Linked DNA regions of Homo sapiens. The protein of the gene in region 1 purifies or fractionates together with the protein of each later gene. This does not show direct contact. Each region holds a gene or a part of one and is shown on either strand. Other genes may lie near its edges.

What was found. The genes of interacting proteins can lie anywhere in the genome.
Region 2: the proteins of RCVRN (region 1) and RAB9A purify together in Homo sapiens (affinity purification with mass spectrometry; 2 studies listed by BioGRID and IntAct, with this or other methods). This does not show direct contact.

Annotation. Positions count from the first base shown.
Region 1 is NC_000017.11:9,894,696-9,899,826, reverse strand, and holds the end of RCVRN (recoverin), read left to right. Parts: intron 1-1,622; coding exon 1,623-1,732; 3' UTR 1,733-3,507; downstream 3,508-5,131. UniProt on the Homo sapiens protein: Acts as a calcium sensor and regulates phototransduction of cone and rod photoreceptor cells. Modulates light sensitivity of cone photoreceptor in dark and dim conditions.
Region 2 is NC_000023.11:13,707,510-13,711,853, reverse strand, and holds the end of RAB9A (ras-related protein Rab-9A), read right to left. Parts: intron 3,134-4,344; 5' UTR 3,108-3,133; coding exon 2,502-3,107; 3' UTR 1,350-2,501; downstream 1-1,349. UniProt on the Homo sapiens protein: The small GTPases Rab are key regulators of intracellular membrane trafficking, from the formation of transport vesicles to their fusion with membranes.

The DNA.
Region 1 (5,131 bases):
TAAGAGAAGCATGAAGGTCATTGGGGTAGGAGGAACATAGGACACAGAATTTAAGGAGGCGCTCGTTCTCAGGGGTCAACAATGCACTCACAGGACCTGAAAGTGAGCGCCTCCTTAAATTCGCGCCTTGGTACTTTACCCACCTTTCCCTCATCGGCCCGGATTGGCCCCTCACCTTTGAGCACTCTCTCCTCCTTGCACAGACACTGGCTACCAAGATGCCTTCTTTTGGCACTTTGCCCCACTGGCTCCTTAACTGGCTTCGCGACCTCCCTCTGGGTCCGTTCATGTGTCGAGCCCTGTGTTCTGCTTTTTGCTCATCTGAAAACCTCCCTGGTGAACATCCCGGGAGGGGATGACGTCAGAAGCCCCGAGGTCGACGTGTTACTCCTGTTCGTGATGTGTTGTACGTGTTTCCACGCGGCCCATCTGGAGACAATGCCTCAGGGCAGAGTCAGGCTTTGATGGTGGGAGTTTCAAGCTCTCTGTGAGCTCTCTGTGGGGTGGCTGGGATGTTAAAACCCAAATTTTACCACCCAGACTTGCGGAGGAAGCCATCCTGGATCCTAACCCAGAAGGGATTAAAGGTATCCAAAAGGCCCAGAGCATAAGTCAGAAATCACATTCAGTTCAGCAAAGCTTTGTTGAGCACCGACTCTGTGCTAGGCACTGTGAACATACAACAGAAAGGAGCATCTGTCTCATGCTAGAGGTATTTCTGCGTGTGACTGCCTTCCCCGCCAGGTCAACAGTTTCCCAGGGAGGGACTTCATCTCACTCTCTTCTATTGTACACCCCGCCTCCGCTCCCTGTGGTGGCCTTGGCTCCAAGCACAGTGGCATCTGGGCTCAGGACCATGCATTTAACTGGACTGATCTGAATACAGTTAGCCACCTGATTAAAAACACCGGAAAACCAGGTGTGGGCGCAACAAGGCTGTCTCTCAGTCCTGATCCCAAATAAGGAGGCAGATGAGACTGGGGGACGCAGGGATGGATGCATAGGAAGGGATCATGGCGGAGTTGTCAGCCAGGAATCATGGGGCTGCCTGTGTGCTGCAGGTGCCAAAGAGACCTCTCTGCAAGCCACACTCCCCCTGGCATGATCTCATTGGGCCCTTCACTTCTCACTCCTATTTCTGGAGGGATGTTGTTCCCTGCTTCTCAGCTGAGACTCTGGGCCTGACATCCAGATTGTTTTGCTATGCTCAGACCCCCAGAAGCTCCTCCTGAACTTGATCCTTGAAACTTGAGCTACTATAGAAAATAGAATAACAATTAATAGTTATTAATTATTGAAGTATTTAATAACCAGCAAGGCAGGGGCACCGGCCAATCGGAAGAGACACATAGCACAAGACTGGCATCTTGGGGGCCCCCCCAGTGCCAGTCATTCACCGCTCTTTGCTGGTCTGCAGGGAGCTCCAAGGGTCATGGGAAAGGAGGTGGGTATCTGGACTGGGGTGGGGGAATATTGAATACTCAGGGCCACTGAGTATTCAATATTCTTATAATAGATACATTCACACTGGGGATACTGGCTAGATGTCAGCCTCATCGCAGCTCACTTGGCTATCAATCCTGACTGTTTTATGTACGTATATATTTTTTCCCAATGCACAGATAAACTTACAGAGAAAGAATTCATTGAGGGGACACTGGCCAATAAGGAAATTCTGCGACTGATCCAGTTTGAGCCTCAAAAAGTGAAGGAAAAGATGAAGAACGCCTGATGCCAACTGTTCAGCTGTCCTCCCTCCACCTACCACTCACATGACACCCGTGAGCGCCTGTGCACACACACACACATGCACACACACGCGCGCGCACACACACACACACACATCCACCCCAGGGCCAAGAGAAAGGCCTGCACACAAGCCCACAGCACAGCTCCCTGCCAAACTGAAGCATCTGTAGTGACCCACTGGTTCCTTCTTCCTGGGTCTTCAGCATTCCCTCCCATCATGCCCGGTCCCACCCCTCCCTCTGTCCACCAGCCCATGGCCCTGTGCTAATCCCAGGATTAGGCCATAGGAGTCCTAAGTGTCACCCCGCTGTAAGCTCCTTTGTGGAGTGCTGGGTAAGCAGTTTCCAATAAACGCAAGCTGAGCTGGGCACGTGGCTGCTGGTCATCCTTCAACTGGAAAAGGAAATGATTTCTATCAGTCACACCTCAAAGACAAGGCTGTGTTGCGATGGCAGCCCTAGGCTGGGCTGCTTTGGTGCGGAATGAGTCTAATGCGGTCCTGCTGTCATGGAGCTCATGGTCCAGAGGGGACAATGAACCTGGAAGGAGCCATGACCAGTGGCCCAGGTTACCATGGAAACGTGCAGAGCACCAGGGGAGGACACAGTGGAAGGGGCTGACTTGTCAGGGGGGATCAGGGACCACATCCCTGACGAAGGGAGATTTAAATTCAGAACCACTGCACACGAGGCGGGGGACGGGGTCGGGGTGGGGAAGTCTCAAACAGAAGGCGGCCAACACAGAGCCGCTGAGGCATGAATGACCATCTCGAGTTCCAGGAGAAGGTCGGGGTGGCTGGAGGGTAGAAGGAGGAGGGAGAGCAAAGTGTGAGCTGAATCTAAAAGGTAGGCGGGGGCTGGACCACGCAAAGCCCTCCCTGCAGCCTGTGGTAAGCACTTGGGGGCTCACCATGGGGACAGCGGTGCCACTGTGGAGTTGGAAGTAGGAGGGGTTTATGTTTGTAAGAGAAGTCCCCAGCAGGCTAAAATAAGTCAGAGAGGAGCAACTGGGGGCTCCCTGGAGTCAGGGAGCCCGATGAATAAGCTTTTGCAGCCACTCAGATGGCCTGGGCCAGGGGAAAGGCAATGGGATGGAGAGGACCAGATCCAGTGAGGACACATTTAGGAGGTAGCATCCACCTGGCTGGCTGAGGGGGCAGGAGGAGAGAGGGCAGGAATGGCAGCCAGGCCTGTAGCTTGGGCAGTGGGTGAATAGCAATGCCATCTATGGAGATGAGAAATACAGAGAGTCTTTGGGGTTTCAGGGAACAATGATGAATTCAGCTTCAATATAGTATGAGGTGAAGGCAGAGCCATAGATGGCCCTAAAGCCCCTTGTTTTAGAGACAAGGAAAAGGAGTCCCAATGACAGGAAGCAGCTTGCCCAAGGGCAGCCAGCTGATGAGCAGAGGTCAGGCAAGGGCTACCCACCGGCCCCCAACTGCCTCCTCAAAGCTCCAGGGCCTGGGATACCCAGGAACTCCATCAGTGCATTCTCCAAGATCCCTGGATTTGTTGCTTTGAAGGCCCATTTATTCTCCAGCCTCAAGTTCCAAGATGAGGTCAGAAAAATGCATGGATACCCTGGATTCTTGACTGACCTGTCTGCAACCTCTTGAGGCTGAGGAGTCTCTAGTTGCTGGTATTGTGGTGATGCCTCCAGACCCCACTTTAGCCACAGAGATGACACAATCACCACTGCCAAAGAGCACTCCTCTGTGTGGAGAGCAAACGTGAGAATAAACACTTATGAACCGTGCACCATGCTAGACTCTGCCATCATTATTTCATTGATGGAGATGTTATTATCTGCACAATACAGATGAGGATACTGAGGGCAGGAAGTGTGAGTAGGAGTTGGTACTTAAACTGGAGTCCCTTTGATTACACCAGATTTCTCCAATAGTTTTGACCTGGACACAGCAGGATAGAGAACTCTAGGATTGCACAATGTCAGAGATGGAAAGGGGAAGGAGGCTACAAGGCATGAGTCCAGAGGTTCTGGGAGGAGAAGGATTATTACTAGAATCATCTACCCAAGGCATTCTCCCATGTAGACATAGTGGGCTATATAGAAGCCAGTTCAGTGGGAGATAAAAGACTCTGTGGGTCCAGTCCAGAGTGTTCTAGGAATATAACCAAAGGGCTCAATGCTCTTTCCACCACACTCCATGAATGAATCTGGTTGCTTCGAGGATGAGGCTGGGGGCTTTTCACTTCTCTCTGAGGTCAGTCTATCATTGTCACTTGAGTCTAAAAGGACAGACACTGCATAATTAGGTCCTTGCTGGTTTGTGGTTCAATGGGAGAGCCAAAGAGTGAAAACCTAATTAGTGCCTCTTTTTTTAGCTTAGGGTGGAAGGACCACTTGGGCTGAGATTCTCTACAGCTGTATGACACTTTGTGGAAAATAAAGCATGAAGTTCAACTTGGCCACAGGGAAGAGGAGGTGGAGATAGTGATGAGCTATGTCATCAAGACTCTTCCAGATGCAAAAGGTAGATGACCTGGCACAAATTATTGTGGCACAAATAGAAATTGCTTGGCTCTTATAGCTGAAATTCTAGGAGTAGGGCTAGCTTCAGGTATGGCTTAATCCAGGGGCTCCAACAATGTCCCAGAGTTCATTTCTCCCTCTCCTGGTTCTGGTTTCTGCTGTCACCACCATTCTCAGACAGGTTCTTCCCATGCTGGCAGGACGGTCACCAGCAGATCCAGGCTGCCTTCTTCATGGTTCCAATTTCAGCAGAAAAGAGAAAATGCTTTCTCTTAAGAGTCCCAGCCAAAGTGTCAGGATTGCATCTCACTGTCTCTGGTTAGTTATATGCCCATGCCTGACTCAATATCTGATGCCAGAAGGATGTACTGCTCTGCTTGGCCAGCAGATTTTTATGCCCATCCTTGAACTGAGGATAGAGTCAGGACAACTCAAGTTCCGTGGACTGACAGTAGGAGATGAGTGGTTTTTCCAAGAGGAAAATTGGGGTACTATAAGAAGGGCAGATTCTAAAAATAGATGTCTACTATAGAGACCTTGGGGAAGTCATTTCCTGTCTCTAGATCCCTGACTCCTCAAGTACATGTAAATTCAAGGGCAGAAATGGGTCTCATTAAGAGCAATAATCCAAACTGCCTGAGCTTCTGTTGCCACCTGCCCACATAAGATCCCAGCCCCTTGTGCAGTGTCTCTTGGGCATTTTTAGCATCTCCAGGAGGTGTCCCACACAGATTCACCCATAGATCCCTTAGTGCCAGGTGCCATTGCTGCCCTCAAGTACTACGTTCCTAATCACAGGCGAGGCCACAGTGCTCCTAATGTACCCAAGCTGTGTGCTGATCTGCTGAGGAGCCTTCTAGGTTAGAGTCTATCAGAACAGCCCCAT
Region 2 (4,344 bases), on another chromosome or scaffold:
AGTATATTACTAAAGTTAAATGCCAAATTTCATGTGTGACTGAGTCTTCAAAGGAGCTGGAAGGGAAGTGGAGCATTGAGTGGGACCTCCAAGGTAGGCTGCACAGGAAAGCATTGCAGGTGTGAAGGTGTGAAGAGCACTTGGGCACATGGGTGGAACTGACAGCTGATTGATTGATAGATAGATAGGAGCTGATCATGAGGAAAGCTAAGCTGGCAAAGCTTGGATCTGGTAGGTGATGTTCCTTGAAGGTTCTGGAACACAAGAGCAATGGGGTGAAGTCAGTCTTAAAATCAGGCTCTCCTGAGCACATGTATGTTAGCACAAAGTTGGTTATCTGCTTTAGTGCTCCAAAAGTGATCCAGATAAAACGTACACCGAGTTTTGTCATCTTGCCATAGCCAGAAACTTACTAGGATGCTTCCTTTGGCATGGACATAGATCGTCTCAGTCTCTGCTCTGCCCATGCTATTACCCATGTGCTTTAATTTTTCAGTCACTTCAACACTTCCTGGTTGACAGTCCAGAGTTCCAGAAACCACTGACTCTCCAGACACCACCTTTCACTGGGTACCACACTGGTGTGTTTTTCTACTTAACAAACACTTCACTACTCTACAAGACACGGATATTGTGTGAGAACTTGCATGGTGGTGTCACAATATTAAAATGAAAAGTTTGTACAGAAATATAAAAAGGTTTTCTTCTAAGACAAGTAATAGTAGGAATGTTTTAACTTCAACTAGGAAACTTTCCCCAAGGGTGAAAAATAAAAACATTTAGTCCATTAATGAATTGTAATTTTGTATCTTCCACACAGCACATTGTAATTGTTACATCAGTTAACAAATGCAGGTTTGTCTGTTCTCCAGTTCAGTAGTTTGCTTTTTTTTTTTTTTTTTTTTTTTTTGAGGTGGAGTCTCACTGTCACCAGGCTGGAGTGCAGTGATGTGATCTCGGCTCACTGCAACCTCCACCTTCCGGGTTCAAGTGATTCTCCTGCGTCAGCCTTCCGAGAAGCTGGGACTACAGGCACGATGCCCAACTAATTTTTGTATTTTTAGTAGAGACCGGGTTCACCATGTTGTCAAGGATGGTGTCGACCTCTTGACCTCCAAAAGTGTTGGGATTGCAGGCGTGAGCCACCGCGCCTGGCCTTGCCTTTTTTCTTAAAACCGAACTGTATCTCTGCTGGGGGCAGTGGTTCACTCCCTACATGACAGTCAGCTCCTCTCACCCAGCATGTCCTTTGATATCCCCATCACTCCCCAGTTGAGGGTCTCATCCACACTCAGTCTAGGCTTTGGTTAGCCTCCATAGAATCAGATAGTCACCAACCACACAGCATATGAACTTCATCCACAAAAGACCACAATTTGCTTTATCAAGTCTGATCACTGCAACAAGTCTTTTTCTAACAAAAAATCTCCTTGAGAGCAAATCACTAAATGTTCAGTAATAGAGAAGACACTAAGTAAATACATTGCCGAATAAAGATGTCTTCGTTTACCCTCTCACAAAGTACAATCCTTCTTAGTATTTCTTCTGAGAGTGATAAAGTCAGCTTGTGTCTTGTGTTATAAAGGAATGTTTTAACTTCAATTAAGAAACTTTCCCCAAGGGTCAAGAAAGTAACAAAAATATTTAGTCCATTAATCGAATTGTAATTTTGTATCTTCCACACAGTACATTGTAATTATTACATCAGTTATCAAATGCACATTTGTCTGTTCTCCAAGTTCAGTAGTTAGCCTTTTTCTTAAAACTGAACTCTATCTATGGAAAGGCTTTCCATTCATAGACAACTTGAATTTAGCTGGATGTATTACAGACTGTATGAAGCAACTCTTGTACCACTGGGGGCCCACCCTCCGCCTGAGACTGTGGAACATGATTTATGGGGGTGGGGGTGCATGAATGGCACACAAATGATGAGTAATTACTAGTGAGAGTAATTCTAGTATGTAGAATGAAAACAGGAATGGTTAAATCATTTTGAAGAGAATGAAGAAGTAAATTAACAATGCATTGCAAATACATTAGATTTTAATCTTTAATATCTAACATTATTGCTTTAGGAAAGTATTTCCCTGAACCAAGAATACAATGCTAATTGCATAAAAACATACACATATAAAAAGTAGTTCTCCATTTTCCCAGGAAAAAATCCAAGTATAACTTCTAGAATAGTCAAGTTTCTTATTTTTATTATAATTAAAGTCTTGGTCATTTCATTTATTAGCTCTGCAACTTACATATTTAAATTAAAGAAACGTTATTAGACAACTGTTACAATTTATAAATGTAAGGTGCCATTATTGAGTAAATATATTCCTCCAAGAGTGGATGTGTCCCTTCTCCCACCAACTAATGAAGCAGCAACATTAGTTTAATTTTATTAGTAGATGATACACTGCTGCAAACGCTAATTCTCTTCTCCATCCCCATGTTGATTTTGTGTATATGTGTGAGTTGGTTAGAATGCATCAACAATCTAACAATCAACAGCAAGATGAGCTAGGCTTGGGCTTTCGGTGAAGATTGACTGTGTCTGTCTGAATCAAATGATCTGACCTATCCTCGGTAGCAAGAACTCTTCGAACCGCTTCCTCAAAGGCTGCTGCCACATTTGTGGCATCTTTTGCACTTGTTTCAAAATAAGGATAGTCGCCGTTGTCCCTGCACCAAGCTTGGGCTTCTTCTGTAGACACCTGCCGTTCGCTTATGTCAATCTTGTTACCCAGAATCACAAAAGGAAAGCTCTCAGGCTCTTTCACATCTGCATAATATATGAATTCTTTCTTCCAGTTACTTAAGTTCTGGAAGCTTTGTGAATCATCGACACTAAAAGTAAGCAGGCAGCAGTCAGAACCTCTGTAAAATGGTGTCCTCAGGCTTCGGAATCGCTCCTGACCTGCCGTGTCCCAAATCTGCATGGTAACAAAATGTCCATCCACTTCCAAATCTTTATTTAAAAATTCCACACCTATTGTATGGAAGAGCTGGGTATCAAACTTATTAGTTACATATCTGTTCATAAGTGAACTCTTCCCAACTCCACCATCTCCAAGGAGAATTACTTTAAAAAGTGATGATTTTCCTGCCATTGTTAATCTCAAAAGCTTCAAGAACCCTGTAAAATAAAAAGGCACCATTACATTCCTTTATACCTACACATTCTTCTACATGATTCTACGAATATCAGCATTTAGCTGAAATAAAACATATGGCCCCAGGGAATACCTAATAATAAGACTTGTTGTTTACTGAGCACTTAGCCATGTGCAGGCTACTATTCTACCATTATTCTCTGAAACAGCTGGGAAGGGCTCACTCTTCCCTTTTCTCAGGTCACAGTTGACTGTGAAGCTGGCACTCAAGCCCAAGTCTGACCCCAAAGCCCTTGCTCTGAACCGTTACTCTATGATAAGCCCCTCTCTGCTCATAGTAAGCCCCACCATTTGTTAGAGATGGGTAGGAGACCAAAGTTCGCATGTTGTTGTTGTTGTTGTTTTGGTTTTGTTTTTTTTTTTGAGACAGGATCTCGCTGTCACCCAGGTTGGAGTGCATGGGACCATCTTGGCTTACTGCAGCCTTGAACTCCCAGGCTCAAGCAATCCTCCCACCTCAGCCTCCCAAGTAGCTGAAATCACAGGTGCACACCACCATGCCTTGCTAATTTTTCTATTTTTTTGTAGAGACAGGGTCTCAACCACGTTGCCCAGGCTGGCTTCAAACTCCTGGGCCCAAGCAATCCACCTGTCTTGGCCTCCCAAAGTGCTGGGACTACAGGCGTGAGACACCATGCCCAGCCCACATGTTTCTCTTAACAACTTCAAACAGCCCTTCAGTGCACAGTGATGGTGTTCACTTAAGGCCTCTCTCCTACCAGGGACTTTCTCTACTACTCCCTCCACCTCTCTTCAGACACAGGTGCTGTTAACCAGGAAAGCCAGAGACAGAAACTGACTTACCTGGCTGTGAAATAAAGTATGAACCAACCACTGAGTAAATGGACTTTATTCTCTTCATTAAGAACATTATTTTGAATTTGTTCAAATTAATGTCAGCAGCAATGGAATTTTTAATATAATCTAGCACATTCTATCCACAAGATTCACTTGGGCAGTTCAAACACTTAAGGAACATGAGACTGCTGCTACTTGTGTGTTTTCAGGTAGAATGAAATAAACCTTAAATGAAAATGTGGTACTATATGTGTTCTTTAGAAGTCCTGTGGCAGGATTAAAAACTTTACTACACTACAAGAGCCAGCCTGTGGGGGGTGAGATTTCAGATGCCCGTTGACAGACAGCTACTTCTAGGTGCTGGTGGGAGCACAGT